Linked DNA regions of Homo sapiens. The protein of the gene in region 3 binds, or shares a complex with, the protein of the main gene of each other region. Each region holds a gene or a part of one and is shown on either strand. Other genes may lie near its edges. The genes, in order: ZBP1, MEFV and CASP8.

Region 1 (9,230 bases), on a different chromosome or scaffold from region 3:
TAGGCAAATAATTTTGGAAGCAAAATGATTTTTAAAATCTTTTGATTATAATAAAAGTTAAATATGAAGTGGCCTCCTTCCCTCTCCCCTTGCCCACTTCCTGTCACCTGTTCTCCCAGCAACCAGGGCCACCTTTCCAAATCTTCCACTTGCCTTCGATGAAAATCTTCCCCTGGCCCTTCCCTTACCTCCTGGGTAAAAATCTCAGTTTTCTACCAGGACTGTCCATGCCCTGTCCATGCCCACTTCCCTGACCTCTTACGCACTTGAGAGCAGGTGCTGTTGCCCCCCGCTCAGGTCGCCTTTACCAGTCAGTGCTGGGGCCCTAGGACTTGGTCTGAGTCACCCCATTCATCCCAGGACCAGGCAGTGTGGCCTCTTCTGCAGCCAGAGTGGGAAATGGAGGCAGGAATCAGCAAATGGAACTGCTATTGTTAGAATGTCCCTTGCAAAACTCATGTGGAAATTTAATTGCCATTGTGATGGTATTAAAAAGGTAAGACCTTTAAGAAGTGATTAGGTCAGGAGGGCTCTGCCCTCATGAATGGACAAATGCTATTTTTTGCCATTGTAGTTTGGTTATCTTGGGAGTTCAGCTCCTTTCCTCTCTGTCTCATATGCTTGTATGCCCTTCTGCCTTCCACCATGAGATAATACATCATGAAGTCCCTTGCCAGAGGCTGGTGTCATGCTCTTGGACTTCCCAGCCTCCAGAAGCATGAGCCAAATAAAATCCTATTGTTTATAAATTACCTAGGCTGTGATGTTCTGTTATAGCAGCAGAAAACAGACGAAGACAGAGACGTTTCTCCCATGCCCTGCAGGGCCCAGCATGTGGCCCGATAAAAGGAAGGCATGAGAAAGTATTTGGCAAATGATCAGGTGAGTGAATAGGATTGCTTTATTACCAGAGAGAGGGACAGCTGAGCATCACATGGTGATAACATGACTAGCTCCTGTTTATTGAGCACATACTATGTGCCCAGTGCTCTACTAGGACCTACAGGTACACAATCCCATTTAACCTGTGCAACAATCCCACAAGGTAAGTACTTCTATGACCCCCTTTACAAAGACATAAACTGAGCCTCAGACAGAGCAGTAACTTGCTCAAGGCACAGAGTTAAAAAGCTGGGTGCCAAGACCAGAACCCCAGGTCTCTTCAACTCCAATGGATACAGATAAACAATGGAGGCCCCATCAACAGCTCTGCCTGGAAGAGCAGAGAACAGGGCCAGGGCAGACTCCTCTAGGGACTGCAATGAAAACCTGCTTTCCTGGACACACCAGTTTTACTCAGTCTTCATTCCACCCCAGGAGGATGACTTTGTGACCTTGGGCAATCTCCATTCCCCTCTTCAGCCACCCCTGGTTCTCTGACCCTTGTCCCTGACCAAAGACATGTTATTATTCACATTCAGTACCTTTCCACCTCCTCCCCCTGCATGAATTCACAGAGGAAATCTGAAAATAAAATCCAGGCTGCCTGGTAGAAGGGAGACTTGGGTTTTGTCAACACAATGTGCAGTAAAAATATCTCTCTTTTAAAAGAGAGAGAGAAAAATTTAAAGACTCAAGATCAGTAACATGTAATTATCATCTGGTTTGGGCGGAGAGCTCTAATAGTTTCCAGAAAAACACAAGCCATGAACAGGGAGTGCGCCTTCCAAGGCAAAAGGAGATGAGGACTCCAGCAGGCAGTGGTGCCATCTTGGAAGTCTTGTGGCCTTTGAGGCCCTTTCCAGGCAGAGTAAGGAGGCACAGCAACTGCTGAATAAATGAACCCCGTGAATGGACACACCTGAAGGCACAGAGGAGGTATCTTTGCTCCTTTCTTGGGGACACCAGGGAACCTTGAAATGGCAGAGATAGCTAGGTCTCTGCCAATATCTACTGTCCCCCATTTTAAAGTCATAGAACCCCAATTTTAGCTGAGCACATGGTGACCCACAATACAGACCATCTTTCCAGGCCTCCCCTTACAGATAAGAGCCACAAGACTGACCAATGGGGTATTAGTGGAATGTGTGTGCAACTTGTAAGATGCGTGCTTAAAGGGAGATATCTGCCCTTGTTCCCTTTCCTACTCCCTGCTGGAAGGAATGCAGATGTAATGGCTGGAGCTTAGCAGCCATTCTAAAATGTAAGGCAAACTTGAGAATGAAGGCCACAAATGGCAGACCGACAATGTAGAAGGACCCCAGGTCACCACACTAAACCTGGAATGCCTACAACTCTTTCAAGAAAAAGACACAACTCTATTGTTTTAGCCACTGGTATTTAGGCTTAAAGATAATCCTTAGGGTCAAACTCAACTTAAACAGCTCTTAAATAGAGAAGAGAAATAAAGGCAATCTAAGTATTTAAAAGTAAGACTCCCACTCAGTGGGTGACAAGCACATAGCAGATTCCTGGCTTCATCTCCAGATGTGCCATGGAATGCAAAGAAAGGTGGAACCTACCCACGTGAAATGTTTTCTTCTTTTTGTCTATTGCTCTCTTTTGTTTGTTTGCTGTCTAAAGAGATACTGTGGAGATGCATCATGTTTTCTAACTTATGCAAATGTTGTGAGCACATACTAAGTGTCAAAAATGCTTTTTCTTAGTATCTCTGCTTTATAGTTAAAGAAACCGCGGCTCAGAGAGGTAGCGCCACACAGCTGGGAAGGAGAACCTGCCCTGGAGAAGAGACAAGACAGAATCCTTGTCCAGGGAACTTCCCGAGGCGCTTGGTCTCCACTGGCATGGTGGTCCCTGCTACAGACTCCTAAAAATGGCTCAGGCCCAGAGGGGCTCCATGTGCCTTCAGGATGTGGCCACGGGGACAGAAAGGGGTCATCCAAGCACAGTCTGGATGGAGACCAGCCGTGAGGGGCACCAGCCTCCTCCCTGCAGCAGAAGCCATCTTCCTAGAAGTAAGGCTGGCACCCAAGACCAAGCTAACATCCCTCAACCTGACCTGCAAGCCCACCAGGGACCTGGGGTCAAGGCCTGAGCTGCAGAGGCCAGGGAAGGAAGGGGAGAAGCTAGCATGGGCCCTGGAGATGGGGGGAGAGAGAGTTTCCCCACGGGGGAGTGGTGGGCTGTGTCAAGACCAACACTGGGAGGCCAGGCCGGAAGAGCACAAAGAACTGCCTGGAGGCTTCACAGAGAAACAGCTGGAATCTGACTCCTTCCAGGAAAGATGAGTGAAGAAACCACGATGAGTGACTGAAGAGACAGGAAGAATAAAGGATGATGCAGGACAAGGCAGTGGGAGGGGTGGGCACGTCTTGGAGCTGTGATTCATCAAGTCTGGAGTCCAACCATGGGTTGGGGTAGGAGCTCCTCCCTGCAGATCAGAGGGAACTTGAAGCCAAGGTGCGCCCAAGCCCAGGTTGGTGAGCGGCATCACCTGGTGGCCAGTTCGGGCGTGGCACCCCAGACACCCAAGGGACTCAGCCTTGCAGGGCTCAGCCGGAGCCCCTTCCGGAGGGCACCTTCATCATCTCCCTCAGCACCCCACCTACCCCCCCATTTAAAGAGCACTATTGTTATTTCATAGGGTGATACCTGCAGTTTTCGCTTTTACATAAAAGGAGAATAAAAGCATCCTGCAGTTTGCTGTTATTGACTTGCCCCAGACTTACTGGTTCTCCACCTGGAAGCAGGAAAAGTCACCCAGGAGCATAAAAAATCTCACCCTCGGGCCCCAGCCGCAGAGGTTGGAGTTGACTAGTCTGGGCCGGCCTGGGCATTGAGACTTTTTTTTTGCTTCAAACACTTAACATGCAGGCAGGGCGGAAGACCTGGGCTCCAGGTGCTCGCTCTGCAAAGACAGATAGCTTCAGGATAAACCTCCGGACCCCCTTTCCATTTGTATTTGCCGCTAAGCTGCTCCTTATGCATAAATGGGGTCTGCAAGGAGCACAGACGTCTCTAGCCCTCCCAGCCCTCTGCAGATGAGACACAGACCCCAAGTCCAGGGACTTCCAGGGCTGAGCTCTCAACCCCCTTGGCTGCCAAAAGCTGGGGGGCCTTGTACACAGCATTCACCTCTGTGGGCCTCAGTTCCTCCTTCTGTGATCTGGAAGAGAACAGTGGCTCTGAGTTTTTCTGAGGTCACTGGCCCTTTTGAGAATTATGTAAGCAACGGGTCCTCTCCCAGAAGCATTCCTGTGAGGTGACCACGGTGCCCGTGACTACGGATGGCTCTGGGGCTCTAGCCCGACAGCTGGGCTGTATCAGCCCCTTAGGTCCTCACCTCGACCCCATGCGCTAGGTCCTTTGATTAAGTCCTTTTACACATGGGGAAACTGAGGCACAGAGGGGTTAAATAATTTGTCCGAGGTCACACAGCCGGTAAATGGCGGAGCCAGGTTTGGACCCAAGCATGCTGACCCAGGCTTGCATTCCGAACCACTCGGCTGCTGACCCCAGGCATCTGACTCTGGAATTAATAAGCAAGTTTTATGATGAGGCGGGGAACTCCACGCCATCTGTGCACTAAGGGTGATTCACCAGTGACTTCTGGGTGTTATAGATCAGGAAACACAATTGGGGAATGGACAGGACAAGCTCTGTCATGGACTCTGTGTGGCCTTGGACAAGTGATCTTGCCTTTCTAGCCTCAGTTTCCCCCCTGAGAAGAAGACAGAACTGGCCCCTACCCTGTAGATGGGTTGGAGGAGCACTTGAGATTGGAAAACGCATAATAGGTGTTCATTAAAGAGGCTCACATGGATACACACAAGAACAATCTCAGGGCCTTCACGCACCTAAATGTTCTGCCCCTAGTGTGGGCAAGGGAAACAAACTGGAAGAAGACAAGAAAAGCCACTGAGAGCTGGGGACGGTGCCTCTGTAGCACCTGTGAGTCCCCGAGGAGGAAGTACTACAGGAACCAGCGGGGCCGGGCGTGGGGGCTTGCGGCTGGAATCCCAGCACTGTGGGAGGCCAAGGCAGGCAGATCGCTTGAGCCCAGGAGTTTGAGACCAGCCTGGGCAACACGATGAAACCCCATCTCTACAGAAAATACAAAAATTAGCCGGGCATGGTGGTCTAGGCCTGTGGTCCCAGCTACTAGGGAGGCTGAGAGGTGGGAGGATCGCTGGAGTCCGGAAGGTCGAGGCTGCCGTGAGCCGTGATCACGCCACTGCACTCCAGCCTGGATGACAGAAACCCTGTCTCAAAAACAAACAAAAACACAGAAACCAGATAACCAGCCCCAGCCCCTCACATCATCAGAGTGATGCCACGCCCTGGCATCCCCCTCCACGTGGTGCATGCTCTTTTTTTTATTTTTATTTTCTTCAGTTCTCTGATGCTGATTCAGAAAATAAAAATGTAGAGGTCCAGGTGGGCTGTGCCTGGAACGGGGAAGGTGAGGGAAGTCCTCTGTCTCAAAGGCCTCTTCGGAGGACGCTCTGGTCTTGCCAAGTTTACAGCTCCTCCCTGTCAACATCAAGTCAGGTCCCCAACTCTGTCTTGCTCATCCACCTGGCTTCCACTTTTTTTTTCTTTCAAAAGACGAACAGAGAAGTTTCATTTTCTTTTTCTCCTGAAACCGAATCTGGCCGGCCTGGCTAGGCATCTATTTCCGGGCTGTAAGCAGCTGACACCTGCCCAGTGGAAGCTGGCATCCCTCCCCTTGTGGGTTCAGAGCTGCAAGAAGCACCAGGCTCGGCCACTTCAGAAGCCCCAGCCTCGACCTAGCCCACCCTCTCAGGGCCACAGTGCAGAAGCCTGCACACCTGCCAAGTCTCTCCGACTCCTTGCAGCTGCTGTCAGCATGGCCCAGGCTCCTGCTGACCCGGGCAGAGAAGGTACAGTACTTCTTCCTTCCAAGGACCAGCGGTAGCTCCCGGGGTGAGATTTCTACTTCTCTTTCCTCCTGTTTCGCTTGGTCCAGATCATGATGACAATAGCAGTATCCTAAAGAATAGTAGACCAGCTGGGCGTGGTGGCTCACGCCTGTAATCCCAGCACTTTGGGAGGCGAGGTAGGTGGACTGTTTAAGCTCAGGAGTTTGACACTAGCCTGGCCAACATGGCGAAACCCCATCTCTACTAAAATTACAAAAATTAACCGGGCATGGTGGCGCATGCCTGTGATCCCAGCTACTCGGGATGCTGAGGCTGGAGAATCGCTTGAACCCGGGAGGTGGAAGTTGTAGTGAGCTGAGATGTCGCCATTGCACTCCAGACTGGGTGACAGAGTGAGATTCCATCTCAGAAAAAAAAAAAAAAAATAGAAAGGGACAGCATAGCCATCCCCCTTTGACAGCTGACTGTGCCCCAGGCACCTCGAAACATGCTTTCCAAGCATTTCCTGATGGCCTGCAGGGACAAGTGCCATGTCATTCCCATTTTATAGATAACTGAGGCCCTGAGAGGTGAAATGACACTCTCAGGGTAACACAGCTGGCGAACGCTGGTGTTAGCGTCTGAACACCCATGTCACAGTCATATCGAGAACAAAGCGGTTTGCTTTGATGAGATACATGTGTGCCTTTGTTCCCCCTTGTTGCATCCTTTCCTCAACTAACATTTCATTCATTTTATTCCTGGAAGAGTTGCAATGAAAGCCAATAGTGTATCGAGTAATTGCTGTTCTCTAGGGTCTCCACTAAGCGCTGTGGACTGTAGGTGAAGTGTGGTTTTGCGGTTTGGGGGATGTGTTTGTTTTGTTTTTAATCCTCACCACAATCTTTGAAGTAGTTATTACTGTCTCCATTTCACAGAAGAGGAACCTGAAGCCGGAGGGGAGGTCACACAGCTAGTAGTTGGCAGGGCTAGGAGCTCAAACCCAGGAAATCAGCCATCAGAATTTTAAAAAACCAACACAGAGTGTGCCCCGGGAGGGCTAATGTCAGGGTGTGGCCCAGGAGCCGGGCTGACCGCGGAGGTCCTGTGGAGCTTCCTCTTCGGGGACTCACGGGTGCTGACGCAGGTTCCGGACTCAGCCCTCGCTGGCTTTTCTTGTCTTCCTCCCCAGTTGATTTTCCTTTTGTGACCAAATTGTTGCCTACACCTGCTCCATTTTACAATTTCCCATTTTCAGACACAGTAGCCTGGGACTCAGCAGTCGAGGCCAGCCCAGGGCCAGTGCTTGTCCTGCATCCACACCTCTGACCCCCATCTCCTCTGGGGTGTGTGGAGCCGAGGCAGTGGCTCCCTAAGGTCAGCCTTCCAGAATCAAAACTGCGGCCAGGCGCAGTGGCTCACGCCTGCAATCCCAGCACTTTGGGAGGCTGAGTTGCGGGGATCACCCAAGGTCAGGAGTTTGACACCAGCCTGGCCAAAAAGGGAAACCCTGTCTCTACTAAAAATACAAAAATCAGCCGGGTGTAGTGGTGCGTGCCTGTAATCTCAGCTACTTGAGAGACTGAGGCAAGAGAATTGCTTGAACCCAGGAGGTGGAGGTTGCAGTGAGCCGAGATCACACCACTGCAGCCGCAGACCAGGCAACAAGAACGAAATTCCATCTCAAAACCAAAAAACAAAAAACTCTGCGAGACAAGGTGAAGCCAGGTGTGAAGTCAGGTGCATGGAGGTGCTGCTGGCTGCCGGTGGGGGAGTTTGGTGGGCGCAGGAGTGGGAATTCCCAGGTCTTCTAATTGGTCTTCACCTGCACACGGCAAGCCGGTCAGCGTTGTAACCATCAGGGTGAGGCACAAACTGATTCTTCCCTCCCCTACAAGTGCTGTGACCAAGGAACCCTGGGCAAACCTGGAGAATCCTCTGAACAGGAAAGAAAGCCCAGATGACAAAGGACTGAGTCACTGTCCTGGAAGGGGAACTCAGGTCTTTCCAAGAAGGGCTCTCCCATGCACTGCCCTCAGGTTCCTTGAAGCAGAAGCTTCCTGGTGACAGGTGGGGCCCCCGCCCACAGTGGCTCTCCCAGGCTGCTGGCTGCCAGGTGCTGCCCGTAACCTGCGTCTGCCCCAGCCTCATCTCTGGGCAGAGCAGCTGGCTTTGATCTTTTAATCATTGTGTGAGCTAATGGTTTTGATTTTTAAGAGCTGCCTCAGGAGGAGCAGGGGCCATTTGGAGAATTCCTCCTTGAACCTCTTGGGGTCCTGCTTAGTCCTCATTAAACTCAGGCCAGGAAACAGCAGCACATTGCCAACTGGCCAAGGAGAAGCTACCCGGGCCCTGCCCAGGGTCTATTGGGTAAACGTCTGTCCCTAGAGACAGACACTCACTCATTCAGTCCTTTTTTTTTTTTTTTCCAGAGATGGGGTCTTGTCCAGGCTGGAGTGCAGTGGTGCATTCATAGCTCACTGCAACTGCTACCTCCTAGATTCAAGCGATCCTCCCACTTTTAGCCTCTTAAGCAGCTGGGACTACAGGCATATGCCATCGTACCTACCTGATTTTTCTCTTTTTTTGTAGAGATGGGGGTCTCACTATGTTGCCCAGGCTGGTCTAGAACTCCTGGCCTCTAGGGGTCCTCCCATCTCAGCCTTCTGATGTGCTAGGATTACAAGTGTGAGCCACCACTCCTGGCCCCATTCATTCATTCATTCATTCACTCAGTCACTCATACATTCAACTGCCATTTCCTGAGCACCTACTGTGTGCCCAGCACTGTGCTAGATGCTGAAGGTACAACAGTGAGCCATGCAAGCACAGCAGGGGACACTAGGGGAAGTTCTGCAGGGGACCCACACACAAGCAGCGTCCCAGCCACTCTGGGACACAGAGACAGGCTTTCCCTAGGAAGTGGCATCTGAGGAGGCCTGGAGGTTGAGTAGACATCATACAGGTTGGGGCGTGAGGGAAGGGTGCTCCTGGCAGCAGGAACAGTGTGCACAAAGGGGCTGGGGAGAGTGGGGCTGAAGGGAGCACAGACAGGCCAGCACTTGGAGGGAAGTTGGGGGCAGGTGCAGGCCAAGCTGGGTGGTTGGCAGAGCCAGATCTGGAGGGTACCTGACTGGAGCTGGCGGGCCAACGGGGAGCCTATCACTGTACCTAGGAGATGGTGAAGAGGAAGGGGGTGGTGCTGGCAGAAAAGAGAGGAGTGGGGGGATTCCAGAGAATCCAGGAATGGCATTTCCAGGGCTCCACGACTGGGCACTGGGGGAAAGGTCTGTTTCTGATGTCTGGTCGGTCTCTGGCTTGGATGGATAGTGGCGCCATGGATGGATGGTGAGCTGAGAGGAGGGCACTCCCGGGGAGGATGGCGATGGGCATCAGGTAAACCCAGGCAGGCGTCCCAGGCAGGACTTGCCTTTGCGCTCCCAGGTC
Region 2 (9,597 bases), on a different chromosome or scaffold from region 3:
ATTCCTAAGGATGCTAGGTTTTCCAGATCCCAGGGTCCTTTCTCACTGGAAGACCCAGGGACTTCTGGATTTGAAGACTCATGCAGCATACCACATCCTTTCCCCTCCCAGGTCTCAGGGGTCCCTGGACTCCCAATTCTTTTTTTTTTTTTTTTTTGAGACAGAGTTTTGCTCTTGTCGCCCAGGCTAGAGTGCAGTGGCATGATCTTGGCTCACTGCAACCTCTGCCTCCTCGGTTCAAGCAATTCTCCTGCCTCGAAGCCTTCTGAGTAGCTGGGATTATGGACACCCGCCACCACGCCCAGCAAATTTAGTATTTTTAGTAGAGATGGCGTTTCACCATGTTGGCAGGCTGGTCTCGAACTCCTCACCTCAGGTGATCCGCCCCCATTGGCCTCCCAAAGTGCTGGGATTACAGGTATGAGCCACCGCACCCGGCCTGGACCCCCAATTCTATTTCTCCTCCTTGAGTGCTGTGATTTCTCCTCTCCAGCCAACAATGCATTGGAAAGTGTGTTCCATAGGCTGGGTGTAGTGACTCACACCTGAAATCCTAGCACTTTTAGAGGCTAAGGCGGGGGATCGCTTGAGCCCAAGAGTTCAAAACCAGCCTGGGCAACATAGACAGTCCTCGTAACTACAAAAAATACAAAAAAAAAAAAAAAAATTAACCAGGTGTGGTGGTGAGCACCTATAGTCTCAGCTACTTGGAAGGCTGAGGTGGGAGGATCGCTTGAGCCTAGGAGGTTGAGGCTGCAGTAAACTGTGCTCACACTACTGCACTCCAGCATGGGAGACAGACTGAGACTCTGTCTCAAAAAAAAAAAAAAAAAAAAAAAAGGAAAGTGTGTTTCTGAATGCTGCCCCCACCACGAGCATGGAATTGTCACCTGGATAGCCTCGGTACCCTCTAAACTGGTGGCATTTTTCTTTTACAGTTTTTTTTTAGTCTCTTTACCTATAGGGACAGCTGCTTAAAAAAATCCAGATGGCCTGGAGCCTCCTGATCCCTTGCCAAAAACCAGAGGAAGTTAAGATCAGAGCAAAACCAGTGCAAACTGGAAGAGGTGACTTCCAGTTACCTTAAGATCATTTACACATTGTTATAAGGCTAAAGGTCCCTCCCCTAAAAGAAGATGGCCAGGGTTTTGTGTCCATGCGATGTAGGAAGAAGCATGCTGGGGACAGCGCCTGCACATATGGAACCCTGCCCTGGGCCTGCTTACCTATCTCCCTTCCCCTCCCTGGACTCTAAAATCGCCCTGCCTCCCATCCCTGGCAAGCAGACGCCTGCAGAGGTGAGCTCCCCTTCTCCATTCTTTGGCCACTGATAACACCTGATTGCCTTTTTCAATCGGACATTCTTTCTTTCTTTTTTTTTCCCCCCAAAATGTTTAAGAGACAGGGTCTTGCTCTGTTGCCCAGGCCGGAGTGCAGTGGCACATCCTCAGCTCACTGCAGCCTGGAACTCCCTGGCTCAAGCAATCCTCCTGCCTCAGCTTCCTGAGTGGCTAGAATTACAGGCGTGTGCCACCATACCCAGCTAATTTTTTTTTTAGTTTTGTAGAAGTGGAGTCTGGCTACGTTGCTCAGGCTGGTGTGCAGTGGCATGATCTCAGCTCACTGTAGCCTGGAACTCCGTCTGCTCAAGTGAACCCGAGCAGCTGGGACTACAGGCGCGTGCCACTATTGTATTTTGTAGAGATGGGGTCTCACTGTGTTGCCTAGGCTAGTATGGAACTCCTGGGGTCAAGAGATCCTCCCGTGCAGGCCTCTCAAAGCTCTGGGATTACAGGCGAGAGCTACCACGCCCTGCCCAACCTTTGGGTTTTTATTTTTTTAATTTCGTTTATAGAGATGGCGGGGGTCTCACTACATTCACCAGGCTGGTCTCAAAGTCTTGGCCTCCAGCAATCCTCCCGCCCTGGCCTCCCAAAGCGCTGGGATTACAGGCATGAGCTATCGTGCCCGGCCAGCCATTCTTTCTCTGCAGCCGATATAAAGTAGGAAAGAACACAATTTACCGGTGACCGAATGTTCTGGATTTCCAGGGCCTTCCTTCAGGTCCGCAGATGCCCCTCCATCCGGAGTGGGCCTTGCCCGGGGTTCTGTTGCCGAGTCCAGATTCGCAGCTGTCTTTTCCTCTAGAGTCAGGAGAATTTCTGGATTTGCGGGCGCCTTCTCCCCTGTAGAAATGGTGACCTCAAGGCTTCTAGGTCGCATCTTTCCCGAGGGCAGGTACACTTCGAAGGGCCTGCACTCCTTCTGCCCCGGGGCGCCCCCCGCCAGCCCCTGCAGCCTCCCCGCGGAGCTGGCGTTTCTGCGCAGCCGGACCTCGGCCTGGCCCCCCTCTAGCGCCCTGCAGGGGCCGGGGCTTCTCCCGCCCGGCAGGGCCGGGCTCCGGGTCCGAGGCTTGCCCTGCGCGTCCAGGCCCTCCGAGGCCTTCTCTCTGCGTTTGCTCAGGGGCTTCCTCGACAGCCCCCTCCCGGCCTCGGGCTGGCTGCACCGCAGGCTGGCAGCTCCGCCCCCGTACGGCCGAGGGCCGTTCCCCTCGTTCCCCTCGGGGTGGTCTGGAGTCTTCAGGCTCCTGGGCTTGTTCTCCCCCAGGGAGCTGGACGCTGCGGAATCATCTGTGCCGTTTTCTTGTGTGGAATATTCTGGAAGGACAACCAGATGCAAAATGATGAAGCTGTCCCACGTTTAGGGCCCAAGATTCAGGGCAGAGGAGAGAGAATCCCCTTGGATATTAAAGTTTAGAAATTGAGGAAAACAACGGGCCGGGCGCGGTGGCTCATGCCTGTATTCCCGGCACTCTGGGAGGCCGAGGCGGGAGGATCACCTGAGATCAGGAGTTCAAGACCAACAGGGTGAAACCCCGTCTCTACTAAAAATACAAAAATAAGCTGAGCGTGGTGGCGCATGCCTGTAATCCCAGCTTCTCCAGAGGCCAAGGTGGGAGGATCATTTGAGGTCAGGAGTTCGAGACCAGCCTGGCCAACATGGCAAAACCCCGTTCCTACTAAAAATAAGAAACTCAGCCAGACGCGGTGGTGCGCACCTGTAGTCCCAGCTACTCGGGAGGCTGAGGCATGAGAATCGCTTGAGCCCGGGATGTGGAGGTTGCAGTGAGCTGAGATCGGGCCACTGCACTCCAGCCTGAGTGACAGAGCAAGACTCCATCTCAAAAACAAAAGTTCAGGACTTCCTAGACTAGACAATGGCAGTCAATTACCATTCAGTAAGAACATGCTTGATGTTGCTATGTATTTCTCTCTCTCTTATTTTATTTTTTGAGACAGGATCTTGCTCTGTTGCCCTGATGTGATCTCAGCTCACTGCAACCTCTGCCTCCCAGGCTCAAGCAATCCTCTCACCTCAGCCTGTTTTCTGTTTTTTCAATAGCTGAAAATACAGGTGTGTGCTACCACGCCTGGCTCATTTTTTTGTATTTTTGGTAGAGACAGGGTTTCACCATGTTGCCCAAGCTGGTCTCAAACTCCTGAGCTCTAGCAATCCACCCACCTTAGCCTCCCAAAGTGCTGAGATTATTTATAAGTGTGAGCCACCATGCCTAGCCTATATTTCTCAAATAGTACTTTTCAAACGTTTTAAGCAGGACAACTGTTTCAAATAAGATCTTACACAGGTCAGCAAAACCCAGATTATACGCTTTAAAAATAAAAATAAGCCGGGCACGGTGGCCTATGTCTGAAATCCCAGCACTTTGGGAGGCTGAGGCGGGAGGATCACTTGAGGTCAGGAGTTCGAGACCAGCCTGGCCAACATGGTGAACAGCACTGAGAAGATTCTATACCAACCCCGTTCATATGATTGCATAGCAATCCCTTTTTGCTAACCTAGAGATGTTTGTCTGACATGAGTATTAATCATAAATGTAGTGAAGAAGTCTCAAAGAACAGGTGTTCCAGCTCCTGCCTTTCGTGACCCTGACCTGCTTCTTAAAAAACCCATTAGGAGCCTGAAGGAAGTTTACTAACCCAGTTCCAAAGGCCAGAGTGAAGAAAGGGACGTTCCTGAACTAAAGTCATCTGGATTTTGGTAGACCTGAGACTCCCAATCCCCAGGTCAGAGTGAGCTGCTCTGAGCTCCTGGTCCCCTTTCCCACAAAGCAGCCAGCACTCAGCACTGGATGAGGAGGAGGCCTGGGCCCGCTTACCCTGAATGGCTGCCCTGTGGAGCTCCTCGGCCAGCAGGCGCTGGTTGATGGCCCGCAGGACCTGCAGGGTGAGCTGCACGGCGTACTCTTCCCCATAGTAGGTGACCAGCAGAGTGGCCATCTTCACCGGCCTGGCTCTCTGGATCTGGCTCCGGGGGATCCTGGAGTGCTCCTTCTGCACACTGGTGTTCTGCAGCTTGAACTTGAACTTCTCGAAGTCATAGGGCACCAGCTCCTCCAGGGTGGACAGCAGATGGTCACTAGGGGTCTTAGCCATGGTGCTGAGCAGGAGAGGCTCGAGCCAGCTGTCTGGCTTCTGGTAGGAAAAGAAGCCTCTGTCCTTGGTGAGCAAGAAAAGGCAGGTTGTGAAATAGCGGAAAAGGCACAGGAAATGCTCTGTGTCTTGGTGGGAACTGAGACTAAGGGTAAGGGTGTGTCCATGCCGGCTGTGTTCTCTTCTTACAGGTTCAGAGGATTTTCCAGCTGGGAGGGCTCCATGCCTTGGCAGACATGTGCCCCCACACCCCTCCCAAACCCTGGACCTCGCCTCCACACTAGACCACAGACAGATGGGCAAGTCTGCAAGGGAAGGTCTGGGATTGGATTCCAGACACCCCCTCCAATCTTCCTTCCTGCCAGGATCTGGGGCTGGCAGAGCGGGTGAGTGGGAACAGAGAGGACTATGCTGAGGGCCCGCCCTGCTGGTCAACTGTTCTCCTCCAGACTCGGGGTTTCAGGGACCTTCCAGAGCCAATGGCACAGGACGGGGGAAGGGGTGGGCACTGAATACAGTCCTGTGAGCTTTGCCTTTCCTGGCCCAAGAAGGCAAGTGAGGCCAGAAGGGCACTGCCAGGAGATAACTCTTGCCATGCCATCACCCCTGTTGATCCGGTTCCAGTTGACTGGTTCTTCCAGCCACATGAAGGACTTGAAAAGCAATGCCTGGACCACCAGCCTGACTCATCTGTTCCCAGAGCTGACTCAGTCCTCGCTCCCTGGAGCCAGAATGCTCTTCCGTGCACATTCATTGAACATTCTAGACAGTGTGCCAAGATGCTGGAGCTACACGGGTGAAAAGGCACGGGTGTCCTTCAGCTCATATGTGGTGCAGGGCCCCAGAGGTGGCTTTGAAGCTAACAGAAGTTACATGTTGGGGGCAGGGCACAGTGGCTAACGCCTGTAATCCCAGCACTTTGGGAGGCCGAGGTGGGTGGATCACCTCAGGTTGGGAGTACAAGACCAGCCTGGCCAACACAGTAAAACCCCATCTCTACTAAAAATACAAAAATTAGCCAGGCATGGTGGCACGCACCTGTACTCCCAGCTACTCAGGAGGCTGAGGCAGGAGAATCACTTGAACATGGGAGGCAGATGTTGCAGTGAGCCGAGGTTGCGCCATTGTACTCCAGCTTGGGCGACAGAGCGGGACTTTGTCTCAAAAAAAATAAATAAATGAAAAATTACATGTAGGGTGAACTGACTCCTCACTTACCTACTTCTGACCGTTGCATACCCTAATTTTTTTATTTTTAGATAGGGTCTTGCTCAGTCACTCAGGCTGGAGTGCAGTAGTGGGATCTTGGCTCACTGCAACTTCTGCCTCCTGGGCTTGAGCAACCCTCCAACCTCAGCCTCCCAAGTAGCTGAGACTACAGGTGCATTCCACCACATCTGGCCAATTTTTGTATTTTTTATAGAGACAGGGTCTCACTATGTTGCGCAGGCTGGTCTTGAACTCCTGATCTCAAGCGATCCACTCGCTTTGGCCTCCCAAAGTGCTGGGATTACAGGTGTGAGCCACTGCGCCCGGCCAGAAGTTTTGTTAATAATGCAATTTACCCTTCACCAGCACTTCCTCGGCACCAGCCACCACTAGCTTTATAAACACTTCCTCCTAGAATCTCTGCAGCACCCTGCAGGGCTGCGTTTATCATCCCCCTGTGCAGCCAAGAATCTGTAGCTTAGTGACTTGCCTAGAGCCAAGATCCAAACGTCAAACCACTTCACAACATCGTCTCCTGCATGACAATAATTTGTGATTTTACTGTTAATGACTACCCATGGATGTCACATTTCCAGCTGACCACTGAGGTCCAGGATGGGTCACTTCCACAGGTCAGTCACAACATTGCGACGCCTAGCTGAACACCCAGCTCTGGGTGTGAGCTCCTCTGTGTGTGCCCAGCCTGGGATTCAAGGCTTTGATGAGTTCTGGTTGGTTGAATTTAACTTACTGTCCAGCTGGTCCACCTGTTTCCTATTTCACAGAGTATTTGGTGTTTTTGCATTGTTTTCATAGCTGACAACAAACATGCAGTTTGCTAGATCTTTCTGAGCCCAAACCCAACATCTTCCCTAAAAAAAGGGTGAATTGGGCTGGGTGTAGTGGCTCACACCTGCAATCCCAGCCCTTGGGAGGCTGAGACAGGAGGATTACTTAAGCCCAAGAGTTTGAGATTAGCCTGGGCAACATAAGGAGACCCTGCCTCTACAAAAAATAGAAAAAATATTAGCTGGGTGTGGTGGCACACACTGGTGGTCCCTGCTGCTACTCAGGAGGCTGAGGTGGGAAGATTGCTTGAGCCTAGGTTCAGGCTGCAATGAGCTGTGATTGCACCACTGCTCTCCAGCCTGGGTGACACAGCAAGACACCCTGTCTCAAAAAAAAAAAAAAAAAAAAAAAAAAAAAGTGGATGAAATGCACATTGATGGTGCAGACAGCAGATTTTTGGAATTTTTAGGCTGGGCCAGAAGAAGGGTGTTGAATGGGGTATCACTGGGGCCAGCACCCGTCCCTGACTCTGGACGGTGGCAACCCAGCACCTCCCAGGCAGTCTCCCACTACCAGATGGAGAAAGGATGAGACTGTGCAGTGACGCTGTGGGTGCTGTGTGATCCCATCTCGTCTGGTCAGAAAACTCCTCGGAGCTGATACCAAAACCCCATGACAGAATTGGGCAGGGAATGATACTTTCTGGTCTAAAGCAGGATATTTTGCAATTGCGGTGACACGTTTTGCAACAGAGGCTGCTCTGAGGCAGGACTTCTGGAAGGCAGTGTTTTGATGCCACTTTGGACTTTCTAGGGCAAGGCAGGCTCACAAAGCTTTTGTTTGGAGGGGTTCCAGTAATTTCTCACAGTGAAAATAGAATTATTGCCCTTCTAACGTCATTTAAGTGTTTAATAATCAAAGTGGAATGGTCATGGGCTGTCTTGTGTGCCCCTGCCATTGGATGTGTGACCTTATTTGGGGTGACATGGCAAATCTAAACCCAACAAAGCTGCTGCAAAGGGTCTACTCTCGGCTATTACTCCTGGGAAATGTGCGGCTCAGACACCACGACCTTCACTCCACTCCTGGTCACCAGGGGTTTCACTTTCTATGGCATTTACTTCTGCACATTTTGGGATTTAAAAAAATGAAGATTGTATTACTTTCGTAATAAGCAAAAAAGATAGTTTTAAAAAGTCTTTCAGACCAGGTGTGGTGGCGCACGCCTGTAATTTCAACACTTTGGAAGGCCGAGACAGGTGGATCACTTGAGGTCAGGAGTTCCAGACCAGCCTGGCCAACACGGCAAAACCTCGTCTCTAATGAAAATACAAAAATTAGCCAGGTGAGGTGGCCCGCGCCTGTAATCCCAGGTACTCCGGAGGCTGAGGTAGAACTGCTTGAACCTGGGAGGTGGAGGTTTCAGTGAGTCGAGATTGCATCACTGCACTCCAGGTTGGGCAACAGAGCAAGATTCCGTATTTAAAAAAAAAAAAAGTCTTTCACAATTAGCTTAACTTCTAAGGGAGTATCAGTCCCGTGCCCCTAAACCATCATGATAAAGGAGGTATATAGTATTTACTTATTTATTTACTTGATTTATTTTGAGACAGAGTCTCACTCTTATCACCTGGGCTGGAGTGCAGTGGCAAGATCATGGCCCACTGCAACCTCCGCCTCCCGGGTTCAAGCGATTCTCCTGCCTCTGCCTCCCGAGTAGCTGGCATTACAGGTGCCCGCCATTACACCCAGCTAATTTTTTGTATTTTTAGTAGAGACGGGGTTTCACCATGTTGGCCAGGCTGGTCTTGAACTCCTGACCTTGTGATTCGCCCGCCTCAGCCTCCCAAAGTTCTGGGATTACAGGCGTGCGCCACCGTGACCAGCCAACTATTTTTTCATAGATGATGAAATGTAGGCTTACAGGTAGGGTGACCAACACATTTTGTCTAGGAGCAAAACCCAATTTGCCCAGTCTTAGCACTGAAAGCCTAGTTCTGGGAACGACCACAGTCCGGGGAAATTGGGACAATTGCCCACCCTGTTTAGATGGGTTAATTGACATACTGAACACATGTCTAGCTAGGAAGAGGCACCACAGGGCCATTCATTTACTCTTGGAGCACCTGCTGTATGCCAGATGCTATTCTAGGTACTACTGATACAGAACTGAACAGAAAAAAACTTCTTGCAGTGCTCACATTCTTTTTTTTCTGATATAAATGCCCTTCAGAAGAGGCCACATTCTTTTTTTTTTTTCGAGATGGAATTTCACTCAGTCGCCCAGGCTGGAGGGCAGTAGCGCAATCTCGCCACTGCAACCTCTGCCTCCAGTGTTTGAGCGATCCTCCTGCCTCAGCGTCCCAAGTAGTTGGGATTATAGGTACCGACAACCACGCCTGGCTAATTTTTGTATTTTTAGTAGAGACGGGGTTTCACCATGTTGGCCAGGCTGGTCTTAAACTCCCGGCCTCAAGTGATTTACCCACCTCGGCCTCCCAAAGTGCTGGGATTACAGGCGTGAGCTGCTGCGCCTGGCTCAGAAGATCCCGCATTTTTTTTTTTTTGACGGAGTCTAGCTATATTGCCCAGGCTGGAGTGCAGTGGTGCTATCTCAGCTCACTGCAAGCTCCACCTCCCGGGTTCACGCCATCCTCCTGCCTCAGCCTCCCGAGTAGCTGGAACTACAGGCGCCTGCCACCACGCCCGGCTAATTTTTGTATTTTTAGTAGAGACGGGGTTTCACCGTGTTAGCCAGGATGGTCTCGATCTCCTGACCTTGTGATCTGCCCACCTCGGCCTCCCAAAGTGCTGGGATTACAGGCATGAGCCACTGCGCCCAGCCAAGAGCCCACATTCTTATAGGAAAGTGTGAATTGATATAAACAAACAAATACACAATGTATCAGGGAGTGATAAGTTGGGGGAAAAAACAGCAGAATAATAGGGTTAGTGAGTGCAGGGGATTGGTTTCATATTTTTTTATTTTTATTTATTTATTTAGAGACAGAGTCTCACTCTGTCACCCAGGCTGGAGTGCAGTGGTGCTATCTTGGCTCACTGCAACTTCTGCCTCCCGGGTTCAAGCAATTCTCCTGCCTCAGCCTCCCAAGTAGTTGGGATTACAGGCTCACACCACCATGCCAGG
Region 3 (5,800 bases):
AGAGGGTTTCCTCACTTCTCAGACGGAGCGGCCGGGCAGAGACACTCCTCACCTCCCAGACAGGGTTGCGGCCCAGCAGAGGCGCTCCTCACATCCCAGACAGGGCGGTGGGGCAGAGGTGCTCCCCACATCTCAGACGATGGGCGGCCGGGCAGAGACGCTCCTCACTTCCTAGATGGGATGGCGGCGGGGAAGAGGCGCTTCTCGCTTCCTAGATGGGATGGCGGCCGGGCAGAGACGCTCCTCACTTTCCACACTGGGCAGCCAGGCAGAGGGGCTCCTCATATCCCAGACGATGGGTGGCCAAGCAGAGACGCTCCTCACTTCCCAGACGGCGTGGCGGCCGGGCAGAGGCTGCAATCTCGGCTCTTTGGGAGGCCAAGGCAGGCGGCTGGGAGGTGGTTGTAGCAAGCCGAGATCACGCCACTGCACTCCAGCCTGGGCACCATTGAGCACTGAGTGAACGAGACTCCATCTGCAATCCCGGCACCTCGGGAGGCCGAGGCTGGCGGATCACTCGCGGTTAGGAGCTGGAGACCAGCCCGGCCAACACAGCGAAACCCCATCTCCACCAAAAAAAAAACGAAAACCAGTCAGGCGTGGCGGCGCGCGCCTGCAATCGCAGGCACTCGGCAGGCTGAGGCAGGAGAATCAGGCAGGGAGGTTGCAGTGAGCCGAGATGGCAGCAGTACCGTCCAGCTTTGGCTCGGCATGAGAGGGAGAGGGAGACGGGGAGAGGGAGAGGGAGAGGGAGACGGGGAGAGGGAGAGGGAGAGGGGTCAAATTCTTATCTATCAATGTTATGCCCACTGTGCTCTCCAGCTGTGGTCTGTGAATTACTGTGGTATAACGTGACTGTTCAAATTTCACTTTTCAGGGGCTTTGACCACGACCTTTGAAGAGCTTCATTTTGAGATCAAGCCCCACGATGACTGCACAGTAGAGCAAATCTATGAGATTTTGAAAATCTACCAACTCATGGACCACAGTAACATGGACTGCTTCATCTGCTGTATCCTCTCCCATGGAGACAAGGGCATCATCTATGGCACTGATGGACAGGAGGCCCCCATCTATGAGCTGACATCTCAGTTCACTGGTTTGAAGTGCCCTTCCCTTGCTGGAAAACCCAAAGTGTTTTTTATTCAGGCTTGTCAGGGGGATAACTACCAGAAAGGTATACCTGTTGAGACTGATTCAGAGGAGCAACCCTATTTAGAAATGGATTTATCATCACCTCAAACGAGATATATCCCGGATGAGGCTGACTTTCTGCTGGGGATGGCCACTGTGAATAACTGTGTTTCCTACCGAAACCCTGCAGAGGGAACCTGGTACATCCAGTCACTTTGCCAGAGCCTGAGAGAGCGATGTCCTCGGTAAGTTTTGCCTACTCAGCCCTCCTCACTGTTACACTACCTTCCCCCCCTACTCCATCACACTACTATCTACTCATATTCAGAGCCTATTAGAAAGTGCTATGTGATTTAGATCACATTAACAGGTCAGAGAACTGTCCAAGGGGAGTGGTTTCCGTTCAACTCTAAATGTCTAGCTGTAGATCACATAGCTGCATTTCCCAGGTCAGTTACAAAGTGGGAGAGTGGCAAGTGTTAACATCCTTAGTTTATAGATGGAAAAGCTGAGATGCTTTATTCCTTTATTCAGCACCTCAAAGGACAATCAGGGTATCACAGAGCAGGAAAGGATAGGAAAGTCATATACTCCAGCTCTCTGTCTTTAGGCCAAAACATGACTGAGCCAATTCAACTAGTTTTGGAAATCTTCCAAGAAGGCAGTAACCCAATTCAATGTTTAAACATCCTCCAACTCTGTCAAAAGTTCTATAATAGCAAACCATCCTCAAAACCTCTTGGTGCATTATGGGAGATAAATAGCAGGTTCCTTCTAGCCCTGTATTTCATGTTTTGAGTATATGAAGAGTGAGAATTTCCCGTAACTTAGATCATGAATCTAACTTAGATTTCGTAACTTAGATCATGAATCCTGCAAGGTTTCCGCGGCTAGCTACCAAGGTAGAAGAAGAGGTTGCCTAACAAAAATGCTAAGAGATCCTGGTGAGAAGAAGGTGGGAGTAGCTGCAGGAGACGTTATACTTTCACTTGCCTTAAGTTTAATTGCATCAAAGATGAATCCGCAGATGCGATGTCAATTCGAGGCAGAGAGTATTGGGGGGCATTGAAGCAATGGGGAGCCAAGTAACGTGGAGAAGAGTGAGAGACACACAGGTCAGGAGAGAAAGAAACCAACTCTAATACTGACACCGAGGTTTCTGATGGTCAAAAGAGTTCCTGAATAAACCAAAAGTAAGTTATTAAGCTCTGAGACAACCCATTTACCAGGAAAGCTGGGGTAGGTCTTGGTTTCGCACCTTATTGTTTCAAATGACTGATATTTTGAGAGAAAGAACTACAGAACTATCTCTGAGCACAGCAGAGGAGACAGTTCATCAGTTGCTTTCCCCCACAGACAGTCACAATATTATGTGATGTATTTCAGAGGCGATGATATTCTCACCATCCTGACTGAAGTGAACTATGAAGTAAGCAACAAGGATGACAAGAAAAACATGGGGAAACAGATGCCTCAGCCTACTTTCACACTAAGAAAAAAACTTGTCTTCCCTTCTGATTGATGGTGCTATTTTGTTTGTTTTGTTTTGTTTTGTTTTTTTGAGACAGAATCTCGCTCTGTCGCCCAGGCTGGAGTGCAGTGGCGTGATCTCGGCTCACCGCAAGCTCCGCCTCCCGGGTTCAGGCCATTCTCCTGCCTCAGCCTCCCGAGTAGCTGGGACTACAGGGGCCCGCCACCACACCTGGCTAATTTTTTAAAAATATTTTTAGTAGAGACAGGGTTTCACTGTGTTAGCCAGGGTGGTCTTGATCTCCTGACCTCGTGATCCACCCACCTCGGCCTCCCAAAGTGCTGGGATTACAGGCGTGAGCCACCGCGCCTGGCCGATGGTACTATTTAGATATAACACTATGTTTATTTACTAATTTTCTAGATTTTCTACTTTATTAATTGTTTTGCACTTTTTTATAAGAGCTAAAGTTAAATAGGATATTAACAACAATAACACTGTCTCCTTTCTCTTATGCTTAAGGCTTTGGGAATGTTTTTAGCTGGTGGCAATAAATACCAGACACGTACAAAATCCAGCTATGAATATAGAGGGCTTATGATTCAGATTGTTATCTATCAACTATAAGCCCACTGTTAATATTCTATTAACTTTAATTCTCTTTCAAAGCTAAATTCCACACTACCACATTAAAAAAATTAGAAAGTAGCCACGTATGGTGGCTCATGTCTATAATCCCAGCACTTTGGGAGGTTGAGGTGGGAGGATTGCTTGAACCCAAGAGGTCAAGGCTGCAGTGAGCCATGTTCACACCGCTGCACTCAAGCTTGGGTGACAGAACAAGACCCCGTCTCAAAAAAAATTTTTTTTTTAATAAAACAAAATTTGTTTGAAATCTTTTAAAAATTCAAATGATTTTTACAAGTTTTAAATAAGCTCTCCCCAAACTTGCTTTATGCCTTCTTATTGCTTTTATGATATATATATGCTTGGCTAACTATATTTGCTTTTTGCTAACAATGCTCTGGGGTCTTTTTATGCATTTGCATTTGCTCTTTCATCTCTGCTTGGATTATTTTAAATCATTAGGAATTAAGTTATCTTTAAAATTTAAGTATCTTTTTTCAAAAACATTTTTTAATAGAATAAAATATAATTTGATCTTATTGCTCCTTGGAGATTTTTTGTGTTTGGTTTTGGTTTCTGCCAATGACATCTCACAGGTGGAAAACATCTGGACTACAGACATGTTCTACTTGAGTCTCCCATGATCGGCACACACAGTTGTATTTTTAAAATTTGTTGTCAATGTTTAAAAATTAGGAGATATCACATAAAAACCAGAATAACTTCTTTTAAAAAATCATACTATCTGACAATATTGACCTCATGCTTTTGCATGGCAAAGGTCTGAGAAGCACCTTCTTCAGATGGGACAGTGCTCTGTGGGTCACTCTTCCCCATCCGCTGTGCCCCAGCCCTGCCCAAGCCCCTCTACTGAGGCTGCTGTTGGTTGCCACTTATCACTGTGCTTGGGCAATTGTTTTCCTTATGTCTAGCCCACTTCACTTATTTATGTTGCCTGCACTGTGGGTGTCTGAATTCTGGTGATGGTCCAGAGGAGGTGGTAAGAATCATCAGAAACCCTTCCTAAGTCATAGGTTAGGGAACATGATTGAGAGGTAGGGAAGTAGGGGGCATGGGTGTGAGAGAAAAATATTTTAGAGTAAAATCAACACATCATCTTTTTTTGCTACCTAAATGCCCCAGGGGACAAAGGTACACCTCCCAAATATAGTAAAAGTTCAATATGAAGAAGGCCTTCAAATCAGTTTCTTTCTAACGAAATACGTCAAGGTAGAAGAAAAATAGTACAAAACTCAGAGAAAGCTCAGCTCCCAGTATGGAGAGCATCATTTTTCAGTGAAGAGTCCGTGATAAGCTGTGAAATTCAGATGCGAATTCAAACATTTTCAGACATTCAGAGAGTCAGAGCAACCCAAGAACTAAACTCATTATATGCATTTTCTCAAGAAAACCCTCCCAGGAGTTTCCTGGGCCTACAGAAATGGTGTGCCAACCATCTTCAACAATGCAGAGCAACTTTTTGTTTATGATTCTTGTCCTTTCTTGCTACCATCTTGCACAGTGTCAGAATCATCCTTAGAAACAGTAATAGAGGCCAATCTCCCAGAACATCCTTCACAAATTTCTTCATTCTTAGAAATTATCTTTTGCCTGTAAAAAGAAAGGAAAGATGTATCAATGTCAACTCAAAAGCTAGAAAGGGTATAGGATATTTGGAGTGCAGGGAGAGAAATGTGCCTTCGTTCCTTCACCACAGCAGTCTCTCACTCATTACTTGCAGTGGTTTTGAATTTAGTGAGGTATGGTGTTCAGGTGACTAAAGTCCTATACGAGGAATTTTCTACTAAATCAATGCAATAAATAACTTTCTTCTATTAAAGTATTGACCAAAATTTATTTTAATGATTTAAGATGCAGCTTCAGGTAACAGTACACCTTCTGATCCAAAGGTGATTTCCATAGGAACCAGAAGCAGCTGCATGTAATGGCAAGACCATCAGACTCCCAGGGGAGATGGATTTAAAAACCACCCTCAGTCATAGAACTGAGCAAACTCAGAAACTGGAAGACAAATGTCCTGTGTTGTTTTGCATAGAAACAAGGACACAGGTGAATGGGAGAAGTATAGACACATCTCCACTCCACCTCAAGTGAACTATCTGGCTTTGTGTCACTGGCCTAGAGTGACATACCTCCCTCCCGAAAACACCTGTGCCTTGACATAACTAGGGAGCAGTTGGTCTATCTTCCTAACCCATTCCTCACTCAAACTCCTTCCCACTCCTAAAGAGAACTCAGCTATGTCTTTTTCAGCAGCAGCCGCACTTCAGATGAATGTTCTCTTCCGTCAGGATCTGTATGGTGTGCTTATACTTTTCTTCAGTTTCAGCAAACTTGGTTTGAAGCATTTTCTCCAGATTTCCCACTATAGCTTTCTGAAAGACATACATTTTAATAGCCATCTTCCCCAACCCAGAGCCATCCAGGGCAGAGCTATATGGCAGAGCTGGATGGAGACCTGGGTTCTTCCCCCAACCCCCATCCCCACTCCAGTAGGGACTCACCTCTTTCTGGAGTTCCAACTGGGTATAGTAGAGGTTTGTGTTC

The links.
Region 1: CASP8 (region 3) and ZBP1 share a complex: the UniProt entries of both Homo sapiens proteins name them as parts of the AIM2 PANoptosome complex.
Region 2: CASP8 (region 3) and MEFV share a complex: the UniProt entries of both Homo sapiens proteins name them as parts of the AIM2 PANoptosome complex.

The regions. Positions count from the first base shown.
Region 1 is NC_000020.11:57,616,836-57,626,065, reverse strand, and holds the start of ZBP1 (Z-DNA-binding protein 1), read left to right. Parts: upstream 1-5,639; 5' UTR 5,640-5,770; coding exon 5,771-5,804; intron 5,805-9,230.
Region 2 is NC_000016.10:3,252,134-3,261,730, forward strand, and holds the start of MEFV (pyrin), read right to left. Parts: upstream 4,501-9,597; 5' UTR 4,455-4,500; coding exon 4,178-4,454; intron 2,658-4,177; coding exon 2,025-2,657; intron 1-2,024. UniProt on the Homo sapiens protein: Involved in the regulation of innate immunity and the inflammatory response in response to IFNG/IFN-gamma.
Region 3 is NC_000002.12:201,283,939-201,289,738, forward strand, and holds the end of CASP8 (caspase-8 isoform 2 precursor), read left to right. Parts: intron 1-877; coding exon 878-1,379; intron 1,380-2,520; coding exon 2,521-2,656; 3' UTR 2,657-3,771; downstream 3,772-5,800. Other genes in the region: FLACC1 (flagellum-associated coiled-coil domain-containing protein 1), read right to left, coding at 4,717-4,843, 5,519-5,628, 5,758-5,800. UniProt on the Homo sapiens protein: Thiol protease that plays a key role in programmed cell death by acting as a molecular switch for apoptosis, necroptosis and pyroptosis, and is required to prevent tissue damage during embryonic development and adulthood.